Regions from separate parts of the Homo sapiens genome. Here regions 1, 2, 3, 5, 6 and 7 are each linked to region 4. Evidence: fine-mapped expression QTL. A gene starts in region 4. Each other region holds a variant in brackets. All regions are shown on one strand. Distances are from middle to middle.

The links. PIP is the estimated chance that this variant, and not a neighbour inherited with it, causes the effect.
Region 1: its variant is fine-mapped to the expression of LPAR1 in whole blood (INTERVAL, PIP above 0.99).
Region 2: its variant is fine-mapped to the expression of LPAR1 in whole blood (INTERVAL, PIP above 0.99).
Region 3: its variant is fine-mapped to the expression of LPAR1 in monocytes after interferon gamma (Fairfax 2014, PIP 0.95).
Region 5: its variant is fine-mapped to the expression of LPAR1 in blood mononuclear cells (TOPMed, PIP above 0.99). The same link has a PIP of 0.9 or more in T cells, monocytes and whole blood.
Region 6: its variant is fine-mapped to the expression of LPAR1 in whole blood (INTERVAL, PIP above 0.99).
Region 7: its variant is fine-mapped to the expression of LPAR1 in whole blood (TOPMed, PIP above 0.99).

What each region holds. Positions count from the first base shown.
Region 1 is chr9:111,077,422-111,081,490 of GRCh38, forward strand. No RefSeq gene overlaps it. Among named protein-coding and RNA genes, the nearest start is that of LPAR1, 41 kb to the left of the region's middle. RefSeq lists an enhancer at 1,005-1,054. The variant C/CT (reference allele first, on the strand shown) is at 2,042.
Region 2 is chr9:111,154,298-111,158,366 of GRCh38, forward strand. No RefSeq gene overlaps it. Among named protein-coding and RNA genes, the nearest start is that of MIR7702, 110 kb to the right of the region's middle. The variant A/G (reference allele first, on the strand shown) is at 2,279.
Region 3 is chr9:111,284,297-111,288,365 of GRCh38, forward strand. It overlaps LOC105376219 (a long non-coding RNA gene), which reads right to left and starts at 579. Exons shown (of 2, transcript NR_188622.1): 1 at 324-579. The variant GA/G (reference allele first, on the strand shown) is at 2,280.
Region 4 is chr9:111,036,472-111,040,540 of GRCh38, forward strand. It overlaps LPAR1 (lysophosphatidic acid receptor 1), which reads right to left and starts at 1,999. Exons shown (of 6, transcript NM_001351411.2): 1 at 1,696-1,999. LOC124902248 (a long non-coding RNA gene) reads left to right here and starts at 457. Exons shown (of 2, transcript XR_007061732.1): 1 at 457-1,318; 2 at 2,984-4,069. RefSeq lists a silencer at 1,429-1,768.
Region 5 is chr9:111,148,017-111,152,085 of GRCh38, forward strand. No RefSeq gene overlaps it. Among named protein-coding and RNA genes, the nearest start is that of LPAR1, 110 kb to the left of the region's middle. The variant A/G (reference allele first, on the strand shown) is at 2,257.
Region 6 is chr9:111,162,280-111,166,348 of GRCh38, forward strand. No RefSeq gene overlaps it. Among named protein-coding and RNA genes, the nearest start is that of MIR7702, 110 kb to the right of the region's middle. RefSeq lists an enhancer at 1-3,486. The variant CG/C (reference allele first, on the strand shown) is at 1,537.
Region 7 is chr9:111,072,066-111,076,134 of GRCh38, forward strand. No RefSeq gene overlaps it. Among named protein-coding and RNA genes, the nearest start is that of LPAR1, 36 kb to the left of the region's middle. The variant T/G (reference allele first, on the strand shown) is at 2,475.

The DNA.
Region 1 (4,069 bases), 41 kb after region 4:
ATTGATTATTGGGTACAAAAATACAGTTAGATAGAAGAAATAAGCCTACTGTTTGATGAAGCAGTAGAGTGACTATAGTAAAAAATAATTAATTGTGTATTTCAAAATAGCCAGTAGAAAATAATTAAAATGTTCCCAACATTAGGAAAAGAGAAATGTTTTAGGTGAAGGATATCACAATTACCCTGATTTGATTGTTTTATATTATATGAACATATCAAAATATTACATACACCCTGAAAATATGTACATTGTGTATCAATAAAATAAAATAAAATAAAATAAAATGAATTCTTTTACAGATTTTTCAGAAGGCAAGTAACTATCTTAAAGTGAATGAAATAACATGGCTAATTCTAACATTGACTAGTTATGTGACCTTGAAAAGTTATTATTCAAAATGCACTTCTATTCATTCAAAATGGATGGGATAAGAGTACCTACCCCACAGTGTTGCTGTGAGGATTATGTGAGGTGACATATATGTGACACTAACTAGCATATAACAGCTGCCCAATAAATATAGTTTCCTACTCAGCATTTTGGGAGGCCAAGGCAGGTGAATCACCTGAGTTCAGGAGTTTGAGACCAGCCTGGCCAACATGGTGAAAGCCTGTCTCTACTAAAAATACAAAAATTAGCCAAGCGTGGTGGTGGGCACCTGTAATCCCAGCTACTCGGTAGGCTGAGGTGGGAGAATTGCTTGAACCTGGGAGGTGGAGGTTACAGTGAGCTGAGATTACATCACTGCACTCCAGCCTGGGCAACAAAACGAGACACCATCTCAAAAAAATAATAATAATAAAATAAAATAAATAAAGTTTCTTTTCAAGATCTTTGGGTGGTGAAACCTTTTGTGACTCCTCTGTTTCCCACTGGGCATCCCACTGGGCTGCCACTAGTTGAATTTATTATCTGACCTCCTTAAATCTCATGACTCATTTATTCATTCTCAGACCTAGAAATGTATTTTTACTCTGCCCCTCAAGCCCATAGTTACCCTCCCAGTGTCTTCAAACTTTTGCTGTCACCACTGTGTTAACATCATTTCCACAAGTTCCCTGTGGCCACTACTCCATGCCCCTCAACATCTTCTGCTTGCCACATTTTCTAACTCAGTAACCTTTCTCATCCTCTTTTGGGGGAATTCCGGGCTTTAGCCACAGTCAATCTGCCCTACATAGCATTTCCTATTGCACATACCTATTACAACTTCTGCAGTTCAATTTCCAGAGAGGAGGTGGGGGAAATGTGGCCCTTAGGGAAACAAAAAAGAACAAAGAAAAAAGATAATGTAGGCAATTAGGGGAAGCTAACAAGTAGCTCAATCTAGTTGGGAAACCCTATATTGGGAGTTAAGTGCAGTGTTCATGGAGAACCAAGAAATCATCTTCATTCTCCACTCCAAGTTCTTCTCCAATTTCAGCAATATATGGCAGGACTTTTTGAGTTCTTACTATGTGTGAGCCACTGAGTATTTCACACAGATTATCTCATTTCCTTTTTAACTAATTCTAGAAATAGAAACATTTATTATCACATCCTTATTTTACAGATGTTGAAATTGAAGCTTAGAAAGATGCTCAAGGTCACACAGCCAGGGACTGACAATCTGGCTCTAGCACCTGTTAACTACCCTCTGCTCTACTCTCAAAGGTCAGGGTTAACTACAGCTTCCAGGCTAAAAGAAGGTAATCATCTTACCTAACCAGCTTTTCTTTTTTTCTTTTTTCTTTTTTTTTTGAGGCGGAGTCTCGCTCTGTCGCCCAGGCTGGAGTGCAGTGGCGCGATCTCGACTCACTGCAAGCTCCGCCTCCCGGATTCACGCCATTCTCCTGCCTCAGCCTCCCGAGTAGCTGGGACTACAGGCACGTGCCACCATGCCCCGCTAATTTTTTGTATTTTTAGTAGAGACGGGGTTTCACCGTGTCAGCCAGGATAGTCTGGATCTCCTGACCTCGGGATCCGCCCGCTTCGGCCTCCCAAAGTGCTGGGATTACAGGCGTGAGCCACCGCGCCCAGCCTTACCTAACCAGCTTTT[C/CT]TTTTTTTTTTTTTAATTTTTATTTTATTATTATACTTTAAGTTTTAGGGTACATGTGCACAACGTGCAGGTTAGTTACATATGTATACATGTGCCATGCTGGTGCACTGCACCCATTAACTCATCATTTAGCATTAGGTATATCTCCTAATGCTATCCCTCCCCCCTCCCCCCACCCCACAACAGGCCCCAGAGTGTGATGTTCCCCTTCCTGTGTCCATGTGTTCTCACTATTCAATTCCCACCTATGAGTGAGAATATGCGGTGTTTGGTTCTTTGTCCTTGCAACAGTTTACTGAGAATGATGATTTCCACTTTCATCCATGTCCCTACAAAGGACATGAACTCATCCTTTTTCATGGCTGCATAGTAGTCCATGGTATATATGTGCCACATTCTCTTAATCCAGTCTATCATTGTTGGACATTTGGGTTGGTTCCAAGTCTTTGCTATTGTGAATAGTGCCACAATAAATATACGTGTGCATGTGTCTTTATAGCAGCATGATTTATAGTCCTTTGGGTATATACCCAGTAATGGGATGGCTGGGTCAAATGGTATTTCTAGTTCTAGATCCCTGAGGAATCGCCACACTGACTTCCACAATGGTTGAACTAGTTTCCAGTCCCACCAACAGTGTAAAAGTGTTCCTATTTCTCCACATCCTCTCCAGCACCTGTTGTTTCCTGACTTTTTAATGATCGCCATTCTAACTGGTGTGAGATGGTATCTCATTGTGGTTTTGATTTGCATTTCTCTGATGGCCAGTGATGATGAGCATTTTTTCATGTGTCTTTTGGCTGCATAAATGTCTTCTTTTGAGAAGTATCTGTTCATATCCTTCTCCCACTTTTTGATGGGGTTGTTTTTTTCTTGTAAATTTGTTTGAGTTCATTGTAGATTCTGGATATTAGCCTTTTGTCAGATGAGTAGGTTGCGAAAATTTTCTCCCATTTTGTACGTTGCCTGTTCACTCTGATGGTAGTTTATTTTGCTGTGCAGAAGCTCTTGAGTTTAATTAGATCCCATTTGTCAATTTTGGCTTTTGTTGTCATTGCTTTTGGTGTTTTAGACATGAAGTCCTTGCCCATGCCTATGTCCTAAATGGTAATGCCTAGGTTTTCTTCTAGGGTCTTTATGGTTTTAGGTCTAACGTTTAAGTCTTTAATCCATCTTGAATTAATTTTTGTATAAGGTGTAAGGAAGGGATCCAGTTTCAGCTTTCTACATATGGCTAGCCAGTTTTCCCAGCACCACTTATTAAATAGGGAATCCTTTCCCCATTGCTTGTTTTTCTCTGGTTTGTCAAAGATCAGATAGTTGTAGATATGTGGCGTTATTTCTGAGGGTTCTGTTCTGTTCCATTGGTCTATATCTCTGTTTTGGTACCAGTACCATGCTGTTTTGGTTACTGTAGCCTTGTAGTATAGTTTGAAGTCAGGTAGCATGATGCCTCCAGCTTTATTCTTTTGGCTTAGGATTGACTTGGCGATGTGGGCTCTTTTTTGGTTCCAGATGGATTCACAGCTGAATTCTACCAGAGGTACAAGGAGGAACTGGTACCATTCCTTCTGAAACTATTCCAATCAATAGAAAAAGAGGGAATCCTCCCTAACTCATTTTATGAGGCCAGCATCATCCTGATACCAAAGCCGGGCAGAGACACAACCAAAATAGAAAATTTTAGACCAATATCCTTGATGAACATTGATGCAAAAATCCTCAAAAAAATACTGGCAAACCGAATCCAGCAGCACATCAAAAAGCTTATCCACCATGATCAAGTGGGCTTCATCCCTGGGATGCAAGGCTGGTTCAACATACACAAATCAATAAATGTAATCCAGCATATAAACAGAACCAAAGACAAAAACCACATGATTATCTCAATAGATGCAGAAAAGGCCTTTGACAAAATTCAACAACACTTCATGCTAAAAACTCTCAATAAATTAGGTATTGATGGGATGTATCTCAAAATAATAAGAGCTATCTATGATAAACCCACAGCCAATATCATACTGAATG
Region 2 (4,069 bases), 120 kb after region 4:
GAAAGAGGAAAAGCTGTGGTTGAGAAAAATGCAGTGTTTGGAACAATGAGAAGGGGCAGATATTACAGAGAACCACCTCATCCATCCCACATGACAGGGCCAGGGATGTGACTTTCCCAAGTTTCTCAGAACCAGGCTGTGGTGAACACAGCAATGCATGACCCAGGTCACCTTTCAAGAAAGGACTTGCTGCCCAGCTATGGGGAATGTGGTCATTGGTGAGCCTCCAGCTGACACCTCCTTCAGGGTCAGCCTCAGCTGCCTAGAGTTGCTTTGCCCAAGGTCTTACCCTTCTCAGGGAAACCTCAGATTGGCCATTCAATGACCAAGGAAGAGGGGAGTATAAAGGCTCAGCCATTAGTGTACACAGTATCATTCCGGGTATCACAATAAAATAAAACATAGAAAAATGTATGAAGTTGAGAAATAAAAGTAGAGATTAACTACTACCAGGTGACAGAATTAATACATGAAGCACATTCTATAAAATCCTGTACACTAGATAGCAGTAGGCTACAAATTTGAGCTTAATAAGAGTTGTGGCCAGGCATGGTGGCTCACGTCTGCAATCCCAGCACTTTGGGAGGCTGAGGTGAGTGAATCACTTCACGTCAGGAGTTCAAGACCAGCCTCGCCAACATGATGAAACCCCATCTCTACTAAAAATACAAAAACTAGCCAGGCGTGATGGTGCAAGCCTGTAGTCCCAGCTACTCAGGAGTCAGAGGCAGGAGAATTGCTTGAACCTGGGAGGCAGAGGTTGCAGTGAGTTGAGATTGTGCCACTGCACTCTAGCCTGGGCGACAGAGCAAGACTTGATCTCACAAAAAGAAAGAAAAAAAGAATTGTGCCCTCTGGATTAGTAATGAATGAATAAATGCGTGATTGCATGAAATATGTAATGACTACAAAGATTATTGAGGAATGTAACAATATTTGAAGATATTGAAAAGACCAATCCATGTTGTAAAGAAAATCTTGCAAATATTCTTCCCAAAATAATCTACACATTTAATGCAATTCTAATAAAAATTCCAAAGGGTTTAGGAAACTGACAAAACCATTCTGAAATTCACCTGAAAGCAAAACAGACAGTAATAGCGATAATTTTTTTTTTCTTTTTGATCAGGTAATCTCTTGAGCCAGAGTAGGCTCAGAGACTCCTGCTCTAATATCTTGAACAACAAGAATAAGCAGGGAGAATTGCATTAACAGATTCTAAAATATAATGAAACAATATTAAGAACCATATGAGATATAAACAGAGAAGGCAGATGATACAATCATACTAAATGATGAGACAGAAACAGACCCAAGGACACATTAGAATTTAATACAAAACAATCATTTACTGCTTCTCATGATTCCAAAATTTTGGTAGGGCTCAGAATAGACAGTTTATTTCTACCTTACATTGTGTTGACTACAGCAGTGCAACTGTGGCTGGAAGTTTCCAGATGGCTTTTTTTTTTTTGGACAGGGTCTTGCTCTGTTACCCAGCCTGGAGTGTAGTGTTGCTATCATAGCTCACTGCAGCCTCAAACTTTTGCCTTCAAGTGGTCCTTCTGCCTCAGCCTCCCAAAGTGCTGGGATTACGGGTGTGAGCCACAGCGCCCAGCCTCCAACTTGTTTTATGATGCTTATATAACATTGATTCCAAAAACATACTCAAGTACTGTGAGAAAAATAAGCCAGATTTATTTTAAAACATAAATTTAAAAGTACCTACATCAATTATGATTAAATTGAACCAGCAACGTATAAAATAAATAATGCATTGAGTCCAATTTCAGATGGGTTCACACCAGAAAACCTAATTAGTATAATCCGACTACTTTAGCAAAAGAAAAGAAATGAATATTTCAATGGATGGGGAAAATTTATTTTTTATTATTCAAAAATAATTCACAATTTTAAAGAACTCTTAGCAAATAAAAATTAAAATGAACTTTCTTAACCTGATAAGCAGAATCTAATGAAAACTTACAACAATCACCCCAAATGGCAAGAAGTTAGATCATTCCCTTTGAAGACAGGAACGTGACAAAGATACCCACTATCAGTAATTCAATTCAACACTGTACTGACCCCAGCCAGAAGGGTAAGGAAAGAAGAAAAGATAACTGGCATGCAGGTTGTAGAGAAAGAAACAAAACAATAATTATTTTCTGATAGTTTTTTTCCATCTAGAAACTCCAAGAAACTCTTCAAATAAATGATCAGAGAAAACAATACAGTTTAGGAAGATAGTTGGATAAAAGGTCACTATATAAAGTTA[A/G]TTACATTCCCATACATTAATAATTCAATGAAATTGGTATGGATCATTCAAAAAATAACATAAAAGTTAGCTATTACGAATTACAAATAAAACACATCTTAGTCCCTAATACATTCTTATGAATTAATATTAATTTTTTTTTTTTTTTGAGACGGAGTTTTGCTCTGTCGCCCAGGCTGGAGTGCAGTGGTGTGATCTCGACTCACTGCAAGCTCTCCCTCCCGGGTTCAAGCCATCCTCCTGCCTCAGCCTCCCGAGTAGCTGGGACTACAGGTGCCCGCCACCACACCTGGCTAATTTTTCTGTATTTTTAGTAGAGACGGGGTTTCACCATGTTAGCCAGGATGGTCTCGATCTCCTGACCTCGTGATCCACCCGCCTTGGCCTCCCAAAGTGCTATTAATATTTTTAATGAAACTAGAAATTATAGGTGAATGGAAAGAGATTTTCTAAGTGTAAAAGCCATAGAAGGAGTCATAAAGCAGATGATCGACAAATCAGATTGCTTAAAATATGTTAAATGATACTAAAAAATCATTAACACTTAAGTGACAAACTAGAAAAATAGCCATAAATAAGACAAAAGGTTAATACCTTTAATATACAAAGCACAGTTATATGGTCATCCCTGGTATATGCGGGGGGGATTGGTTCCAGGACTGCCCCACACCCAAGCCCATGCATACTCAAGTCCCACAGTCAGCCTGTGGAACCTGCATGTATAAAAAGTCAGCACTCCATACTCAGGTTTTGCATCTGTGAATGCTATATTTTTGATCTGTACATTTGTTGAAAAAAATTTGCATATAAGTAGACCCTTGAAGTTTAAATCTGTGTTGTTCAAAGGTCAACTGTAAATCTTAAAATCCACTGGAAAACACTAATGCTCCAATAGAAATGTTAGCAAAGAAATATGAGCAAGTAAATTCAGGCAAGAAAATATTACTAATAAACATGTAAATAAAATTTAGCCTCACCATAAAACAATTGCTTATTAAAATAGCAGTGATATGTTACTTTTCAAAATAGAAAATGACAACCAAGAAAAGGTGATTTGTGTGTTATGAGATGGGTCCTTTTATACACTGCTGTTAGAAGTTGAAGTTGCATAACCACTCTCCAGACAATATTTAGCACAATTTAACAGTATATATTACTTGACCCAGTAATTCTATATCTATTTATATATCCTGAAGAAATAAGTGTGTGTGTGCGTGTGTGCGTATGTGTGTATGTTTGTACAAAGTGCTCCATGACACTAAACTATAGAAACACTAGATGTGCAACAAATGTGAAATTATAACTTACCAATAATGATTTCAAATTTTAACATGTTTGGGAATTCTTCTTCAGGGAGAATTTTGCGCAGAAGCCCAGTATAAAAATTAGTCAAATGTGGACTCTGAAAAGTCCAAGGGGATCCTGGAGCCAGTTGACTCAATTACTGCACTCCCAGTTCCTGCTTCCCCAAAGCCTTTGGTAGCCCCCAAGACTCTCATCTCTATGAATCCTCAAGACAACATGGGAAACTGAAAAAAACACAGCTATATAATATTATAAAACTATTGAAATCATATCCTGAAAATTTGTAATCTTGAGAGAAAAAGTTCAAGATATCACATAAAAATTAATATACAAAATTACATTCTGTATGATTCCAACTAGATAAATATATGTATGTAAATATCCAGTGACTCTTTTTGTTTGGGTCTTTATAGTCATCTGTATTTTTCTACTAAGACTATGTATTCTCTTCATAATTAGGGGGAAATGGGAAATCACAAACAAACA
Region 3 (4,069 bases), 250 kb after region 4:
AAAACTAGCTCTAACCTGGTTTTGCTTCTACCTGCCTATATGGCCTTGAGTGAGTTACAACACTTCCTGGGTTGTCAATTTTGTCGTTGTTAAAGTAAAGGGTAGGACTAGATAACTCTAAGACCCCCGTCCAGTGATCACATTCTTATTCTAAATCTCATAGCAGTATTAAAGTGTTTCCAGCTCTTAAAGCACTTTCACCACATGCATCATTGAATTTGGCCCTTATACAGCCCTATCGGGTTGGTAAGGTGGGAATTACTAGCCTCATTGTAGAATGAGGAAGATGGGGCTCAGCATTAAATAAGCTTACTGTACCACACCTCTTCTCGGTAGCAGGTCTTCTGAGTCCTCCATGCCTTTTCCACTTCACTCTTCCATAACAGACAGGTAAGATGAATGGAAGCTCACAATGGGCAGGCTTGATGGACGAGGACAGCCAGGGCTGTGGCTAACGACTGAGTTTTGTTGGCTGTCTGCCTTCAGCTGGCCTTTTTCTTGATGAATGTCTGAATGAGGTGCACTGGTAGAATTCTGAGGAGGCACAAGGAAGGGGATGAGGAGCTTCAGGCAAATGGTGGGAAAGAGAAAGTGAAAAGGGAAGAAATAGAGCAGCTGCTATGTGGAGTGAAACTAACTTTACGGAAGAAAGATGCTTACAGAGGACTTTTAGGGAGTTTTGTTCTAACGTATGCACTGAAACCCTTCCCCCATCTTCACAAGAAAACAATAGTAAGGATCATCATTTTTTAAATGTTTTTGAGTTAGACTTTTGTATTTTGCATTGATTTTTAGATGTATGGATTTCTCCGATGAGTTCCAACATTTGGGTTATAATAAAAAGAAAAACACATTTACACTATTACCATTACCAACGAGCCAAAATTAGGCAAAGCAAAAAGTACATACTCCCCCTGCTCCCTCTCTTAACCCCCGCCCCGCCAAACACACACTTACTGAAAGGATTTGTGAGTCATTATTGTGACCTAACAAATGTAATGCTTTTCTCATATTTTTACTGTAGAAACAGCAAATTACAGACCCATTGACTGGCCAGTATACCTGGGAGACACTGTTCGGTATAGATTGTGATAGATCAAATAGGAAGATATAAAAATGCCCTTCCATCTGACCCCAACTGAGTGCTGAACCTGCAGGTGCAGGTGCTGAAACTGGTCCCCATTATCTGAATGTTAAGGATTCATCTGGAATGTGAGAAAGCTCCAATGTCCTAAAAACAAATCTGCAGCATAAAACTAAGGAGAGGATTTGAATTTTCTGACCTAAATAAGTCTCCTTCAATCCCAAAATGTCTCCCAAAAGACAATATTTCCCAATCTGAGAAATTTGAGATTGTGGAGGGCTGCAAGTTGTCTGCAAATCAATATGGTATACACATTCTTTTCAACTAATAGGTACCTAAAATACAACACCTTTCCTACTGAGGTGGGAATAAAAAAATGACATTCCAAACTTGAAAAGCTTGTAAATTTACTGGCATATGAAGAAACACAGTTAAGTCTCGCTTAGTGTCATGTCAAAGTAAAGAAACTTTTTTGTACTTCATAGTTTTAATCTGTTTTCCAAGTCCACTCATAAAATTTGCCATGTGCAAGGAACAACATAGTATTCAGCTAATTTGTTTGGCGGATGAATAAACTTTACTATTTCACCTTGGGAAATCATTTTTTTAAAAAAGCACATTCAAAGGAATATGCTTTTAACTTCTGTAATACAATGGAAGCAAAGCAGAATATCACAAACTTCTTACTCAATATGGTAGAATTGTTACGTACAGAACATACAAATTCCGTACAATATAGTTACAGTGAAACTCAGAAGGTCTGTTTCTTTGGATCCACACCGAAGGAGACGGAAACTTAAACTTTCTCAGTTCCTATTGCTTTTTTTTTTTTTTTTTTTTTTTTTAGAGACAGGGCATGGCTCTGTCGCCCAGGCTGGAGTGCAGTGGCTTGATCATAGCTCACTACAGCCTCAGACTCCAGGGCTCAAGCAGTCCTCTCCTCTCAGCCTCCCAAGTAGCGAAGACTACAGACATGCGCCACCATACCAAGCTAATATTTTTATTTTTATGTAGAGATAGGATCTACCTAGCTGATAGGATCAGCTGGTGGCGGCGGGCGTCTGTAGTCCCAGCTACTCGGGAAGCTGAAGCAGGAGAATGGCGTGAACCCGGGAGGCAGAGCTTGCAACGAGCCGAGATCCCGCCACCACACTCCAGCCTGGGAGACAGAGCGAGACTCCATCTCAAAAAAGAG[GA/G]AAAAAAAAAAAAAGAGAGAGAGAAGAGATAAATAAACTGAAGCTCTGAAGGTTAAGTAAAATGTGTAAGGTCATTGAACTATTACATAATTGAGTGTTATTTACACGTGAGTTTCTCTGGTGATTAGTCTCCCGTGCTTTTTCACTAGACTACAATGCCACCTTTTACTCGATCACAATGACTGGTTAGCAAGATGAGCTATATGTTCAACAAGGTACAAATATGTGCACAATTTATGTCTTAGGTTTACCTCATTTTCCTTTGCTCTGATTTAGTAGGTCTGTGGTGAGGCCCACAAATCTGTTTTTAACACTTTCCCCAGGTGATTCTTAGGTGCAGCCACAGTTTAAGCACCTTGTTCTAGGTGGTGCCGTATCAAGGACAGTGATACTGTTTCGTCTATGCCAATGTGGCTTGCTGAAGGGTGTAAAACCAGTCCTGCTGAGCAGATCCCTCTGAACAGCTGAGCCACCTTTCAAGACAGTAGCAGGATTCTCACCTGAGATAGAGGATTTCTCCACATGGGGCAGCCTCACTTTTCTCCTAATGATACAGCCTGAGGAACAGAGGGTCTGACCTCTTGTCTGGCCTTCCTAGCCTTCCTAGCGCACATTCAGTAGAGAAATCAACTCTCTCAAAGATGGATCTCCAGGCCTTTTGATGATCTTTCTCCCTCTGCCTCAAATGCTTCAGGCTGGAAGCACTGGAATGCATTGGAAGCATTGGAATGCATTCACACAGGGGCCAGCGTCCTTCTGGCAAAGGTTCTGCTAAGCTTCAAGGCAACCTTGAGTCACTCCTTTGAGGTGGCTCAATCATTTCCTGCCACTTAGCCATGACATATCTCAAAGTTCATCAACTATCTACAGATAAAGTGTCCATATAGATATATAGATATATACACACATATATTTATATATATATACACACATACATATGTATACATATATATACACACACATATTCTAAGATCATTGTGTGAGACTATTCCTTTTAAAAAAAAATTTAATCAATTCTTTGGCCAGCCACTGTGGCTCACTCCTGTAATCCCAGCACTTTGGGAGGCCAGGGTGGGAAGATTTCTTGAGGCCAGGAGTTTGAGACCAACCTGGGAAACATGGTGAGACCTCTGTCTCTACAGAAATTTTAAAAGTTAGCTGGGTATAGAAGCACATGCCTGTAATCCCAGCTACTCAGGAGGCTGAGGTAGGAAGATCTCTTGAGCCCGGGTGTTCAAGGTTACAGTGAGCTATGATCACACCACTGCACTCCATCCTGGGCAACAGACTGAGACCCTGTCTCAAAAAAAAAAAAAAAAAAAAAAATTAAATTAATTCTTTGCATAGAAAAGGAAGGCTTTTAAGCAAAAGAGTGCTTTTGTAAGATAACATGTGATTACCCGTAAGATAACAGATGAAGTAATGAGGAAGGAGAACACAGAGGAGAGGGAAGAGAAGCAGTGTGTGCTTTTTACTCCCAAACATAAACTGATCCCAGCAGAAGCCAATGATAAGAGCCAAACAGAAAATTATCATGCTCCCAGAACTACACCCCCATCTCCACCTTCTACCGTGTGTCCAAACCCTACACTAATGTTCATTCTAGTTCCTTACTCAAATTTTATCTTATATTTTTGATCCACTCAATTCCTATCACATAAACACACTTATGAAAATGTGTGTGAGGTGGGGCATGGTGGCTCACACCTGTAATCCCAGCACTTTGGGAGGCCAAGGCAGGTGAATCACCTGAGGTCAGGAGTTCAAGGCCAGTCTGGACAACATGGTG
Region 4 (4,069 bases):
CTCTGGACCTCTCACTTCCCCCTCCTACCTTTTCCTACTGCTCTAACACAATAAGATAACCTCCCACCGGTTTCTCGCTATTTGGGAAGCTGGAAGGAACAGCAACGATCACCAACCCCTTCCATTTTCCGGATGGGGAGACGGAGACCAGGATCTGAGCTGACCCGACTGGCTGAGGTCGCGCCGCTAGGGGACGTGGTGTACCTTGCGGGCTCGGATGATGACAACCCAGCCTTCCCTCCTCGCTCCTCGCCCGTGCCTTCCTGCCTCAAGCTACCTCCTTCTCTTGCCACTTGGTGTTTTTATCCTCAAATCAGACAAGTATCAAGAAAAAAATGCAACCTTAATATACTTACAATGCTGATTATTATTCATAATTTTGCATTTGGGGCAATTATACTCGCTCCTACTGGGATATGGAAATCAAGGGCAGAAAGAACTAGGTGACATTCTACCTCCCTGTGTATTTTAATGATGTTTAGTTTGGTTCAAATAACCATACCTCTAAAATACACCCTTTTTCCTTGGGACCCACTCTTCTATCCGGCAAGGGAATAACTTCTTAAAAAACTTCGCATTTTCCAAGTGTACAGTCTCCCCTTAACCAGAACTGCAGACTCTGAATCACAGACCTCTGGCTTACCAATTATGCTTAGCTGAGCAAACACACTTATGCAAATACGTGAAAAACAAACTGTTAGAGCCTGAAGGAATAGAGGATTTCGCTGTGATCATCAATATGTGATCATCACATTTTCAATATTTATGTTTACCAATATCTATCTAACCCCATAGGAAACGACGCGTCCATAGTGAAACAAGCCAGCACCCACATTTATGAAAAAATCCACGGATTTCAACAAAAATGAAGAGAGGAGAGCAGAAGCGGAGAGCCACAACCTCAGGCCCCAGACAGCAGGCAGCAGCAAGTCCTGAATGCCTTCACTCTTAACATTGCAAAGACCAAATGGCAGCAAAGAAAAACAAGAATAAACTTTAAATCCATTCACCACAAAGGAGTCCTACGCAAGTCAAAGGAGCCGTCGATTTCAAAACCATCAACTTTCAAAGCCAGGTCCCTCCCTTGCCTTACAACCTCCTGTTACTTGTTAAGCACGTTTGTTAGGCGGCTGGACAGAAACTTAGTTAAAAGTCCTCAGCCCGGTGGTGGGGGACAACCGAGTCGTCAGTGGGAAGCGAGAGGTGCGGAGCCCCAGGGGCGCAGGGACCCCTCGGAGGTGCAAGTCCAGCGGGACGAGGTTTTGGGAGAATTTCGAGGGCCCCTCGCAAGCCCTCCCGCGCACCCACCCCGACCCAGGTAACCGGAGGCCACCTACGTGTCACTGGGCGGGCCCCGGGGCGCACTGACCTGGCGCGGGACAGGAGGGCCGGCGGCCCGGGCGGCTGCGGCAACTTCCCTCCAGGGGCTCGGTCCGCCGCTGGGTGCGGGAGGCCAGGGGAGCCTCGCCTCCTGCAGGCCGGCTCGCAAGAACGCACGGCCACCCACCCGCGCCGCGGCCCACAGCGCGCACCCACACTCTCACTGGCACTCGCACGCGCGCCCCCAACCACAAAGCCCGTCCGCGGCGGGACAGTGTGAGCCCAGCGCGCCGTGTGGCGGGCCGAGCAGTCGCCGCGGCCTCTGGCTTCGCGCCCAGGGGGCGCCGTCCCCACACGCCGCGCCGGCCCCCTTACCTGCGCTCGCTGCCGCCGCGCGTCCCTCTCCTGCCGCCCCCGGGCTGGCTTCAGGCCGCGCGCCCAGTCCCGGCGGCCCCCGCCCCACCGCCAGCCGAGCCCGGCCCTCCGCCCGCCCCTCGGCAGTCGCCCAGAGCGGGGCCGCCCCCTGCGCCCACCCCGCCGGGGTCCCGTGCTCGGCCGGGCGGCGGGGAGGGCTCCGCGGCTCCGGGCCCTGGCCGCCCCAGATCCGGCCCGCGCTCCGCAGCGGGGCTGGAGACGGAGTCGCCACTCAGGGAGCGTCAGCCGCCAGTCGGCCCCTACTGCCCGGCTTTGGCGCGCTGGCAGGAGGAGGGGGCGCAGAGGGAGGGCCAGAGGAGCAGCGCCGACGCCAGCCTCCTCTCTTCCTCCGCCTTCCTTCTTTTCTGCTTGTTCCACGTAGCACAAGTCAGCAACACCCGAACCCCCAGAGTCCGCCCTCCCCGCTCCCAAGCTGGACCCCTTACCTGGTGTGGCGCCCCCAGCGCCCCTGACCTCTGCGCCCCCTCCTCCATTCATTGGCTCGACAGCCCACGGTGGTGGCAGGGCCGGGGCTGGGGGGTGGCCTTAGCCTCCCATTCATTATCTCAGCAGCCTCCCCCGCCCCGCCCCCGAGTCGACACACCCGCAGCGGGAGACCCGTGGCCGCCAGCTCGGGTCCCACCCCCGCCCCTCCTGCGCTTACCCCAGCGCCGGACAGCTGGCAGGACTCCGGTGGACGCCCCGGCACGGGGCATTTTCACGTTGTCGCTCTCCTCTTCCCACTCGAAAAGCTCTGGAAAACATCGCGGGGCCCGCAAAACCCCGGAAATGTGGCCTCTCTTTCGTGGCTCACTTTCTAAACTTTCCAGAAGGCGCAAAGTTTCTCCCAGCGCCGCCCTGCACTGGAGGCTGCGAAGAACGCAGAAGCGGCTTTGCTGCTAGGAAGGTGCATACGTTTCTAGTTCTGATTTTTCACTTCACTGGATCTGTAAACGAAAGCAAGTGTGTCTGCTCCCCTAGTTCTCCATATCCACGATTATAAATTTCTCTTCCGCTTTCCCAGTGTAGCTTTGCAAGTGTAAACTATCAATTTTAGTGAGAGTAATTAAGGGCGGGGACTGCACACCTGGAGGTGTGGGTGGGAGCGGCGCGGGACTAAGGCCTAGGGAACATTCTCAGGAGAGTGGCAGCCACAGGGATTCGCCCAGGTCTTATAACACACCCACTCGATGGGGTCTCCCTAGCCACGCCACCTCACAACACCCATCTCCCACTTCTGGCTTCCCAGGATTTCCGGAGTGATCACAATTATCGGCCTCTCGCTCCACAGCTAAGGCCACCGCATATCAAAAATAGCAGCGTGTGAGTAAAAGTTTCATGAGCCCTCGCCTTGAAATGGCACAGAGGACACAGCACACCAGCAGTAAGGCATGGGGACTCGGCAGGACTGATCTGATTGAGAGAAACGCAGGACAGCGAGGCGGGGCTATGTTGGTGGTGGCCACCAGGTAACCGTGGGCTTTGCAGAAGAGAAAGGTCACTGCAAACCGTAGCTGGACGGAAACTTTTCAAGCCTCAAGTGAGTTATGCTGTGACGGGACCATGACCATCTCCCACCGGTGACTGCTTAGAACCTTGACCAAGCTCGTGTGGTTTTCACAGGATGCTCAGGGCTGAGTCCTGGCTGTAAATAATTTACTATCTAAAGCTGTTTCCTTTTAAAAACAATGGTTCTAATCTTTTTTTTAAAAAAAATCATTCAAATCTTTTTTAAAAATCCACTTTAAATAACTTTGCTTTCTATACCTTTCCTACGAATATATGATTTATTTTATAACCTACTATGTGAAAAAATTGAAATTTTAGTACATGCACAGTGCTAATATGTTCATGCACAATGCTACTTATGTTTGTGTACGGCATGCAGAAATGTGTATAGATATGTATACCCATGAATACAAACCACTCCCTTATCTCACAAATAATCATAGGGGTTGATACCAAACTATAAGAAATATTATATTGGGATGAATAGGCAAATGTTCACTATAAAATCTCAGTATCATAAAAAGTATATATTGGTAAGAAAAAAATATACTCGAAAGAGGTTTCCATATATTTTTAACCATAGCTCTACTCAAGTCAAAAAATCACTTATTAGCTAATTTTCCCGTCTCTTTCTTCCTATACACTGTACTTACTATCAGATTTCTTAACACCAATACTTCTATATCTAATATAAAGACATTTTAAAATTAATTATTTCCATGTTTAGCCTTTCCCCATAAATCAAAGGTAAAGTAAAAGGAGTTTCTTACCTACCACTCAACTTGAATATTTTTAATATGTTGATTTTGTCTCTTACCTTCTTAAG
Region 5 (4,069 bases), 110 kb after region 4:
TAGATAATGGGCATAGGGGGTGGTCATCATAGTATTTGTTCAACTTAGTCATATGTTTGAAAATTTTGGATAATAAAATGCTGGAGGGAAAAAGAAATCAACTCACATCCTCAGGCCGAACTCTAAATAAATTAGGCAGTAACTATATTACATTGCTATATTAGCCTCCAGTGACCTCCTCCACTCCTGACCGTTTTAAATATTTGGCGTTACAGCTTCATTCTCTCAAAAACAGAACAGGCTATGTTGTTTCGGTATACTGCTAACACTGTGAACATCACAAGGTTCACCTTCAATTACTTTACCTAATCTGGAGTATGAGAGTATTCGTGAAGATTCTTTGGTTGTGATCAGAAACTGACTCTAACTTAAGCAAATGGGGAATTTATGGGAAAGATGTAGGGGAGCTCACAGGACTCACAGGATTGAAGGAAACGAGGCACAGAACATACAGAAACTAGACTGCTCCAGAGAGTGTAGTGGCAGGAAGTGTAGCATTGCCCCAGGGAGTGATGCGGTCATGAAAGAACGCCAATAATTAACAGACTTTCATCATTCTGCTCATAATCTAAATTTCAGACAGATAATTTCCAACTGGCCTTCCTTGCCCATTAGACTGTATACGATGGAGAAAGATCATTTCCAAATGGAAATTCAGATGCTATTACCAAAAGAAACTGGAATGGATGCTAAACGGCCTAAAATCAAAGCAAAAAATTAAACAAACAAACACTACAAGCATACTCACATTTTTCTGCACACTTAACAAGACACTAAATACCATTTACTTGCTAAATACCACTCAGTTTTTCACTTCCTTCTGCCTCTCTTGTTTTGTAATTCCAACTCTGTCTTGTGACCATCTTAATATTTCAACCAAAATTTCCTGGGTTCTATCTGCTCCCCTTCTCATCCCCAGAATCTAGTATTTCACAAGGAAGCTTAACCTCTCCATATCCACTACCAGCACTGACTTAGAATTTAATACTTCCCTAGTTCACATCCCGGATCCCACACTGGTACATCTCAACCTACATCACTTGGGGTATTTGGATTTATTTTCCAATTGCAAAGTTCTCTGGATATTAGTGAAGATGAGACCTAGGCCCATCTGGTTGTCCAACACATCACAGCAGAACCTGAGCAAGCTCAGGAACCAGCCTGACTCCCCCTAGTGCCACTCTAGAACAGGAGTTTTTAACAAGTGCTCTAGAATGACTGCTTCATAGGAGAGCTGTTACCTAGACGCAGGAGAGAAATGAACATATGTAAAGCAAGGTAAGTCATTTTAAGCAACTGGATTTGAAAGAACTAACTAGTTTATCCAGAATTTTTGAGTAGGGAACAGAGGCTTGGCTCTAGAGCTGCACATTTGGGCCATGTTTATGTGAGTCAGGAGAAAGCCTGGCTCCAAGGCTGACACACTAGCACAGTTGTTGCTGTCACCTTTTGGGGTAATTTGGAGCACACCCAGCAAGAATTGGCCCTGCGGCATGGGAGGCCAGAGGCCAGCTAGAGTTGTTCTTTCCATGAGTACCACACCCCTGGATTTTCAGGGTGTCCTGACACCCCTGGCTCCACTGTGAAAGGGCACACCCATCAGCAGATAGCAACCTACGGGGATCCCATCACCACTTGATTTTCCAAGTTCTGACTTCATTTTCTCCAGGGCATTTTCTCCTCATTTTCCTGGTTGCAGGGGACCGTAGCTGCTTTATTTGGTTATGTTTGGCCCTCAATATGGAATAATAATGGGGTTAAGAGTCTACAGCTGCTTGTTCATATTTAGAAAATGTTTCTTCTAGTTCTGGCTTCATAAATTATTAATTGTCTGAGTTTGGGAAAAATCATTCAAACATCTCTAAATTGTAGTTTCTTCATTCGTAAAAAAAAAAAAAATAACTATCGTATCTACTTCAGATTGCTATGAGAAATGAATGTCATAAATTTTGGCCATTCAACTACAGGCATCTAATGTGTTCCTGATAAAATCACAGAAGTTCTATACATAAAAATATATTTAACTTTTTAAAAATGTTAAGTCTGGTGTTTACCTTCAATCTCTTTAGGATGCCGTAAAAATTTATAAAAGATTAAATGTAATTATTATTAAAAGGATACGTAAGTCTACAGTTTTTAAATAAAGAAAAATTATAAAAATTAAAAATTACCTATAACCTCACCATTGTATGAATTTTGGAAAACTTATTAGCATCAGCAATACATGTTGTTTCGTAAACTATATTTTTGTTTCAC[A/G]ATATGTTGCAAATGTGGACATGTGAAAAACAGTTTGCGAAATGTGAAATATCTTACAAATGTTTCCAATTACTGTCACTTTTACTATCAGTTACTCTTACTATCAGCTCAGCAAAATTTATTAATTTTCTTAGGATAGTGATTAGTTGTAAGATTATATCTCCATTCTTAAAAAGCCATATGGTATTTAAAAGAAAACAAGCCAAAATATACAAAATGCTGAGAGCTAAACAGAGTTTAATGACTCTGAAAAGGACTCACAGATGTGAACTTATTAAAGTACTGTGCTCTAATGAATAGGAGTCTGGGCTTTGGAGTCATATATACTTGATTCGAATCCTAGCTCTGCTTCTCTAAGTCTCTGTTTTTCTGCTTATTAGCAAAACAAAATATAGTTCTTATCCTAAAATTTTTTTAACATTTAAAATACTTACACATAGGGAAAAATAATAAGTAGTACCTATCTTAAAATATTATTACATACAGTCAGTCACAGTAGCTCACACCTGTAATCCCAGCACTTTGGGAGGCCAAGATGAGAAGATCCTTTGAGTCTAGGAGTTCAAGACCAGCCTGGTCAACATGGCAAAACCCCATCTCTGCAAAAAATACAAAAGTTAGCTGGGTGTGGTGATGCATGCCTGTAGTTCCAGCTACTCAGGAGGCTGAAATGGGAGGTTCACTTGAGTCCAGAAGGTCAAGGCTCCAGTGAGCTGTGATCACACCACTATACTCCAGCCTGGGCAACAGAGTGAGACCTTGTCTCAAAATAAAAGAAAAAAAAATACATTATTAATATTAGATCATAAATATTTAAATAATAAAAAATAGGCCTTCAAAAATACTGAAGATGCTATGGTTTTCAAGGTTTTATATATATGATATATATTGATATATAAGTCAGTATATATGATATATATGTCAATATATGATATATGACATTGATATATGATATATGTGATATATATCTATATGTCAATATGTATTATATCATATTTTTATATAATCATATTATGCATTATATTAAATATTTACATATATTTATAATATATTTATAATTATATAAAAATCTATAAACATAAATTTTTACAAATATATAAATTTATATTTAAATATTTACATAATTTATATAATTATAAATATATATCCATGATATATATCACATATATATCATTATATATCATATGTCATATATTATATATATCATTATATATTACATCGATAATATATATGTATAATTATATTATATATTGATATAATATATGGATATATCTATATATTATGTATAATAGATATATTATATCCATACATAATGCATCAGTATATTAAACAGATATATACAAATTATCATAATTTATAAATTATAACGAATTATGATAAATTATCATGACAGTGATAATATGTAAATTTTCAGCTGTTTTATTAAAGGAAAACAAACACAAGAGGCCCTCTACTGGCAACTGTCCATCAGAATGAGCACTCTTCATCCACAAGGGATGGTGGCCAAAAGTACAATAGTATTTTAGGAAGAAACTTGATAGTATGTAGCAAGATTCCTTAAAAACTCATAGTTATTTACCAATAATTTCCATGTTAAGACTATTTTCTTATTTACTTACCTAGAGACAGGGTCTCACTCCATTACCCAGGTTAGAGTGCAGTGGCACGATCTCAGCTCACTGCAGCCTCAATCTCCTGGGCTCAAGTGACCCTCCCACCTCAGCCTCCTGAGTAGCTGGGACCACAAGTGCATGCAACCATGCCCAGCTAATTTTTGTATTCTTTGTAGAGACAGGGTTTTACCATGTTGCCC
Region 6 (4,069 bases), 130 kb after region 4:
GCAAAGAATAATTATTATTCCAGTGTAGAGATTTTTCCCAGACTTTCAAAAGATAGACTATAGATCTTGAGACACTAAAAAACTTGTTTATGATTTTTAATCAGCAAAAGAATGTATTCACACTTAAGACATGGAAAACAGCTCCTTCTCTGGAAAACAAGAAAAGCATTTGAAAACCAATTTCATTTTTTCTTTGAGCTATATTAAGGTCTATGGTTTTAAAAAGTATGATACAAAAAAAATCCTTTTTTTCTGTACTCAGTAGTCTAAGTATCATAGACATTTTTGCTTTTCGGAGGAATCAAAAGTGTTTCTCTGATGTCATCAGGACCATCACTCTGGCTAAATCTTTTAAAAGTTCCTATGACATCCAAACATATGAAACTCAAGGCAATATATCAAAAGAGGTAAGACTGTAGGCTTAATTCTTCTGATCTATGAGTTATATATGAGCAAAAAGATGAGTTTGAATTCTCCCTTGTACCTACTATCCTAGTGACCTTGAGCTGTTAACTGCTATGCACCTGTCTGCTCATCTGTAAAATGAGGTAAAAGTGTAATCTCTTTCATAGGATTACTGAAAGAATTAAATGAGATAATGCACGTAAACCACCTAGCATAGAGTAAATGTTCAAACATTGTTATCAATGATTAGGAGTGTGACTGTGATTGAGATCCCAGGAAGTAACATAGCTCACTATGAATGCATCTGATTTCTCTTGCTAGCACCACTTACCCGCCTAGCACATAGTCACACAGTATTTCCTTCTAAAATATTTTATAACATCCTGACAAAAGGATGAATTTTAACCTAGATCGATGTTCTTTAATGACCAGAAATGTAATGGTTCCTCTCTATTCTCTTTGATCTAACCTCATTTCTTTCCAATATTCAGAATCAACAAGAGGAGGAAAGAATGAGAACCCTTGGTCATGAACAGGAGAATGTTTTTGACGATTTGGAAACTGGGGAGTATGAGACTTCCTCTTGGGAGAGTTGAAATAGGGGTAACATAAAGTGCCATATGAAGAACATTCAGCCTAAGTGAGAAGAAACAAATCCCGATTTATGTCAATCATTGGCATATAATATTAAGGCCAGTCTAGCAGCTACTTTTTACCCTTACAACATGTCATTGTGCCTTGAGCTTTTTCCATCTCTTTAAGGCAGACTCCTTTCATGTGCTAGCTGTACTTAAAAAGCAGCAGTGAACAGAAAGCAAAATTAACCCAGTATATTACAAACCAAGAAATGATGACAAGAAGGTAACAGCTATACTGCTGGAAGACTGGAAAGGCATCTTCAGGTAAGTTCAGTGGATCCTGAACTACTCTGTAGCCTTCATCCAAATCCTGTCCAAAAAGGAAGCTTCAGTACCTTCTGTTTTCATATCAGGCTTGATAAGTGTGTTTTGTCAATTATAATCAAAGGCTGGCCTTGACATTAGAAAATGTTATTTTTCAAACCAAAAAGAACCTGCAAAGCCCGTTCTTTGTTGTACTTCCTCATCCTCCATAATTATGCCCTTTCACCTC[CG/C]TTTTTTTTCTTTTTTCTTCTTCTCCTTTTACTGCAGGATTTATAAAATCTCTGAAACTTGTTGTTTGCAGATGTAGGTCCCAAGTGCCCTGTCATTTACTTCCTGTCCAAGCACTGAGCAGATGGAATTACACAAGTTCGGCTGTATGAAACCACCCTCTAATGCCTTCGTTAAACTCCAGGATTTTAGAGTCTGTCCAGTTTCTGGCAGGGACCTTTCCAAACTTCCACCCCCAAAGCTGTAAATTACTACCTCATTAAACTCAATTGTAAATGATTAGGTGTCTGGAATGTACTTTCCTCTCCCTGCAGCCTCCTTGGAGAAATTACTACATTGCAGGCCTCCCTACTTAACTCAACACATTAGTCAAGCAATGCAGGGTTTGAGTAGCTCACTCAGGAGGAGGTTTTATTTTTGTTAGGGTATTAAAACTCTATTATCATTTAGTTCCAAAAGCGGAAGATTTGTGATCTTCCACTTCCCATTGAGCAATCAGTCTTTTAGCAAGAGAAAGCTGTAATCAACAGGACTTTTTCAAGAATTCAGTTTTCCTCCTGCCACACAGGCAGTTGGAACTACAGAACTTTTGTTTTTTCTGAACATCAGTGAGATGATTTAACATTTTTTAAAGGCTGCAATTGCTGCCGTTAATTTCCATAGGTAAAGATCATCTGGGAAATATTTAAACGTTTTTTTGAAACAAAGAGCAACAAAAGGTAACTCAAGTTTTCAATACCTGTTCACCTAATTCTGATTTTTCGATGAAGTTTAATAAAAAAAAAAAAACTTGAAGAATCTGGAAAGGTCATGGGGAAAGGGTTGGAGAGAGAGAAAGGAGAGGAGGGGCTGTCACATTAAATAAATAATCTAGCCTAAGTTCCCAGCCTAGCTGCCATCATTTTAGCAGAAAAGGTAAAACTAATATTCCCCGAGGGACAAAAGCTCAGAAGGTCAGTTCTCTTTCTTATGCAGGCTTTTACCTCTTTATTTAATTCACTGGCTTAGAGTCTTAAGATTTTCATAATGCTTATTTTTGGGCTTCTCTTGCCACTTGTTTCACTATAGATTGACTAGAGTCAATTAGTTGTGCTTCACTGTGTCTCTGGAATATAGGTAAAGATAGTGACTTGCGTGGAGAAAGAAAATGAGGGCTATGAGCAAAATGGTTTTGCTATGATCAAACAAGTAGTAGCAGTACAGTAAGTGTTGAAGTAGAGAGTTCTCACCATCTTTGAAGAAGATTTTCAGAAAGATACAAGGGAATGGAGCATCATTAATTCCTAACTCAGCCTATGAATTTGTTGGTGGGTATTGCAGATGATCATTAAAGAGATTCCTTTATATCTGGGCATGGAAGATAAGGAATGGACTAATAGCTTAGGTATCCATTTTTCTACATTCATTGTATGTGGAACAAGAAATAGTTCAGATGAACATTGCTTGCCAGGGTGCTCTTTAAATGGGATCATTGGGTATAACTATAATTGGGTTAATTGGAATAAGGTATAACTTTGTCTTGGTTCCTGGCCTTGTACCTTGGAATAGATGGGATTTTAGGAAAGAGGTAAAGAAGCTGTTTCCCCAAGGAAACAAAGGCGAATGGTATTACCCAGGTGATAAGGTGTGATACGGAGAAGGGAGAGTACAGGCTCCTCCTTTGTGCCGACAACACAGCACAGCTTTGATTTGGTGAAAACTGATGGAATTGCAGTATCTCTCAGGCAACCTGAGGGTCTGCGGATTTGGAAAATCTTTTAGCATTGTCATCAGTGTTGTCATGGTAGATACCAGGTGCACTGATGCTCAGGAGACTTCATCAATGTCAGACTTTCAGAAGGGTAGGCAGGATGGAAGAATGTGAGCTAAAGAAAAGACACCAAACAACCAAAGATGACTTGGTTATTTGAAAGATTCAAAAATACTTCATTGTAGGCAATTCATTCCTTGACTAAGTTTTAATTCATGTTAAATTTATCACTTAAAAGCCTATTAGAGAGTAGCACCAGCAGAATGGCAGACTAGAAGGTGCCAATCTTCATCTCCCCCACAAAAACAACTAATAACCATATACCAATGAAATTGTGGAGAGAGCTCGGGAGTACAGCAAAGAGGTAGCAGAAACTCAGTGAAGCACAAACACCAAAGATGGCTGTGTAGAAAACACCTTGCTTGCACTACTCCATTCTTCAGTTGGGATCAGCTCAGAGCCAGAAGGGATTTCTTCCAAGGGGAAAAGGTAAGCAGGAGGATCCCAGTGGCCCTCATCACCACGCAGACACCTGCACGCTTCAACACCCTGCAGTTTTTGCCAGTGCTGAGCCCAACTAAGGGAGCCAATGCTGTGCCCCGCCCCTGATTGCCTGGGTAGCCATAGTACCTCTCCATTTCTGGGGTCTTGCTGTTATTTCACCTTACCACCTAAAGCCTGGGACACCCAGCACCCCACTATCCCTGGGCCCAAGTTGCTGGAGAGCAACTCCATCTCTCTGGACTCAAGTCACTGCTGGACCCCACCCCATGGGACCTGCATT
Region 7 (4,069 bases), 36 kb after region 4:
CATATTAAGGGGAGAAAGCAAGGTTGTCATGGAAGAGAGAGAAGAGATCACTCATAGGAAAAGTGATGCAGTCAATTTTGGAACAAGAAGTAATCTTGAGAATATAAGTGAAACCATGGGCTAAAATCTGTATTTCCCAAGTCCTTGGGATATGGGCCATGAGTTAAGATTCTTAGATTTTATGTAAGTTTTCAAGGACAAGGGGACGGGGTAATTCCTTTTTTTATTTTAAGTTCCAGGATACGTGCACAGGATATGCAGGTTTGTTACATAGGTAAACGTGTGCCATGGTGGTTTGCTGCACAGATCAACACAGCACCAAGGTGTTAAGCCCCACATGCATTAGCTATTTATCCTGATGCTCTCCCTACCTCCACCCCCACCAGCAGGCCTCAGCGTGTGTTGTTCCTCTCCTTGTGTCCATGTGTTCTCATTGTTCAGCTCCCACTTATGAATAAGAACATGTGGTGTTTGGTTTTCTGTTCCTGCATTAGTTTGCTGAGGATATGGCTTCCAGCTCCATCCATGTCCCTACAAAGGACATGATCTCATTCCTTTTCATAGCTGCTTAGTATTCCATGGTATATATGTACTACATTTTCTTTATCTAGTCTGTTATTGATGGGCATTAGGCTGATTCCATGTCTTTGCTATTGTGAATAGTGCTGCAATAAACATATGCGTGCATGTGTCCTTATAATAGAATGATTTATATTCCTTTGGGTATATAACCAGTAATGGGATTGCTGGGTCAAATGGTATTTCTGGTTCTAGATCCTTGAGGAATCACCCCACTGTCTTCCACAATGGTTGAACTAATTTACATTCCCACCAACAGTGTAAAAGTGTTCCTATTTCTCCACAGCCTCGCCAGCATCTGTTGTTTCTTGACTTTTTAATAACCACCATTCTGACTAGCATGAGATGGTATCTCATTGTGGTTTTGATATGCATCTCTCTAATTATCAGTGATGTTGAACTTTTTTTCATATGTTTAAGTTCCGACATGGGTAATTTCTGCTGTTATTTAGGTCATATTTATTTCAAAGCATTCTGGGTATGAACCAACAACATCTTTAGGGTAGTATAAAAGACAGAAGGTACTACTGCAGCATTGCTAAAATGTTTCTCTTTCTTTAAAAAATCCTCTTGTTCTTCTCTCTAGTCTAAGTCAAGGGTTGACAAGCCATGGCTGGTAGGCTAATTCTGGCCTGTGGATTGTTTTTGTAAACAGTTTTACCAAAACACAGCCACTCTCACTTATTTATATATTGTCTGTGGCCGTTTTTGCACTACAATGGCAGAGTTGAGTAGTTGCAACATAGACTATAAGGCCTGCAAAGCCTAAAATATTTACTGTCTGGTCTTTACAAAAAGTTTGCTAACCTCTGCTCTAGATCAATTATTCACAAACCTGATTGTGCATTAAAATCCCTTGAGAAGCTTTGGAATAATACCAGCTCCTAGATCCCAACCACAGAGATACTGATTTAATTTGTTCTAGGGTAGTATTTAGACATCAGCATTTTCTATAACTCTCCAAGTGATTCCAATATGTAGGCAGGGAGAATCATTATTCTAAATATTTTTTAGCTCACTAGTAAAGGAAAGTTGAAGGATCATCTTCTAATTGCATATGTTCTAGATTTTAACTAACCCACAAAATGTATATTCAGTGACTTTATTTGATGAATATAAAAATCTGGAAAGGGACTTTTTGACTAATAATTCTTTTCTCAATGGCCACAAACCAATAAAATGCTCCATTTTCATTTAAAACACACATGCACCGTCAGTATAGGTGGCAAGAATTTCCTCTTCTGCTGGGAAACATTCTCAGGTTCAACCTGCTACCAAGACTCAGATATAAAGCAGTTTCCAAATATAGGTTGAGGGTTCAAATTGGGCAGCCAAAAAATTACAAACATCTGCTATGATATTGTAAAACAAATTATTACAAAAGGAAAAGAAAGAAAAAAACAAGTTCAGAGTTACTCTTCTACCTAATAAAAAAGAAGCATTTCTAGAATTCAGATTCTTTTTGAGTAAAGTTCAAAAGAGTGTAACATTATAATATGAATTCATTTAATATTTTCTAATTTCAATATCTAACAACTAGTTCATGTAACCTACATTTTCTAGAAATTGTTAACATGTAAAAATCACATCTCCTGATATGATCAACTTAAAACTGTCTAGATTATTTTCTTGTTTGATGGCAGAGAGTCTCTTCAATAGAAACTTCACTTCTATAACAAAAGAATCTGTATTATGTCATTCTTGAATTGCCATAAAGAAATACCTGAGACTGGGTAATTTATAAGAAGTTTAATTGACTCATGGTTCTGCGGGCTGTGTAGGAAGCATAGTGCCAATTTTAGCTTTTGGGGAGGCCTCAGGAAACTTCTAATCATAGCAGAAGGTGAAGAGGGAACAGGCATCTCACATGGCGGCAGCAGAAGCAAAAGAGAGAG[T/G]GAGAGGAAGTTGCCACACACTTTACAACAACTAGATCCCACAAGAACTCACTATTGCAAGAGCAGCACCAAGAGGATGGTGCTAAATCATTTATGAGAAATCCACCCTCATGCTCCAATCACCTCCCACCCAGCCCCTATCTCCAACACTGGGGATTGCATTTCAACGTGAGATTCAGAGGAAACACATATTTAAAGCCTATCAGCTTCAGGATAAAATAGTCAGACTTAAAGATACTTCCAAAAGTCTAGGTTATTCTGACTGAATTAGCACCATGAGTTTCCAAGTATGATCTCTGAGAGACTTTGATCGTATCATTGCTTTTGGTCTTTCCTAGTCCTATACCCCACTCCCAGTGAGTGGCCTGTGGATAACTATGAAAGCACACATACACACACTTCCTAAGAATAATAAATAAATTTAAGAAACAGTACAGTCTAAATCATATTTAGAAAAGCAACATTTTCTTAAAGGTTACAAAATCTGCAAAGATCCAACTCTATCCTCAATGATGTCAAAAGGAATAGCAGAGTACTGGCCAGGCATGGTGTCTCACGCCTGTAATCCAAGCACTTTGGGAGGCCGAGGCAGGTGGATCACTTGAGGCCAGGAGTTCCAGACCATTCTGGCCAACATGACAAAACCCTGTCTCTACTAAAAATAACAAAAATTACCTGGGCATGGTTGCACACACCTGTAATCCCAGCTACTTGGGAGACTGAGGCACGAGAATCACTTGAACCCAGGAGGTGGAGGTTGCAATGAGCCAAGATAGAAACACTGCACTCCAGCCTGGGCAACAGAACGAGACTCTGTCTTAAAAAAAAAAAAAAAAAAAAAGGAATAGCAGAGTATTTTAGTTCCTTGAAACTACATGGTCTCTCTCCTCTCCAATCCAGAATAGGGTATTTGTGGTGGTCTTCCCATAACAAAAAAATGTTTGCCTAATTCCCACCATACACACACACACAAAACCAAAGAACTGCTGGAAGTTTTGAACTGACAATGTTTTAGTCAGGAATCAAGCCCTGGAACTATGGGATTCCCCTTCCCTCAGCAGCCTTTCAGCAAGAAATAACTTTTAGCCGTACTCTTGGCCTGGAAAGGAGAGCGAAAGCCTGATATGAAGACAGCAGATGATTTTTTTTCTCCTTACGTAGCAAATCTCACAGGTTGTCACTTCTTTCCCCCCTGTTAAGTGTATTCTTATACCAAGACATTTATTTCCCCACAGGTCTATATCCCTATTTCCTCCCACGGCCATAGAATGTGTAAGAAAAGTAACTTTCTCAAATTTGACCTGTGCTGCTATGATATTCTTGTTTTTGTACTTCCACCATTTTACCTAGCAGTTATTAGAATTTGTTAGTGGGGAAGACAGTAAAAGTATGCTTCTGGTAGGATGGAAAGGAAATCCTACAACTCTCTCTGGACTGTCCATGAACTGAAAATTCTCCAAAAGATGTCTACTTTTGGTTATTTTTACTTATTTTTAAGGATTCCATCTCTGTTGCCCTAAGGGAATAACATTTATATTGACCTTTTGAAAGTTGTGATTTAGCTCCCACCCTAAGCTGAAGAAAGGAAAAGAAAG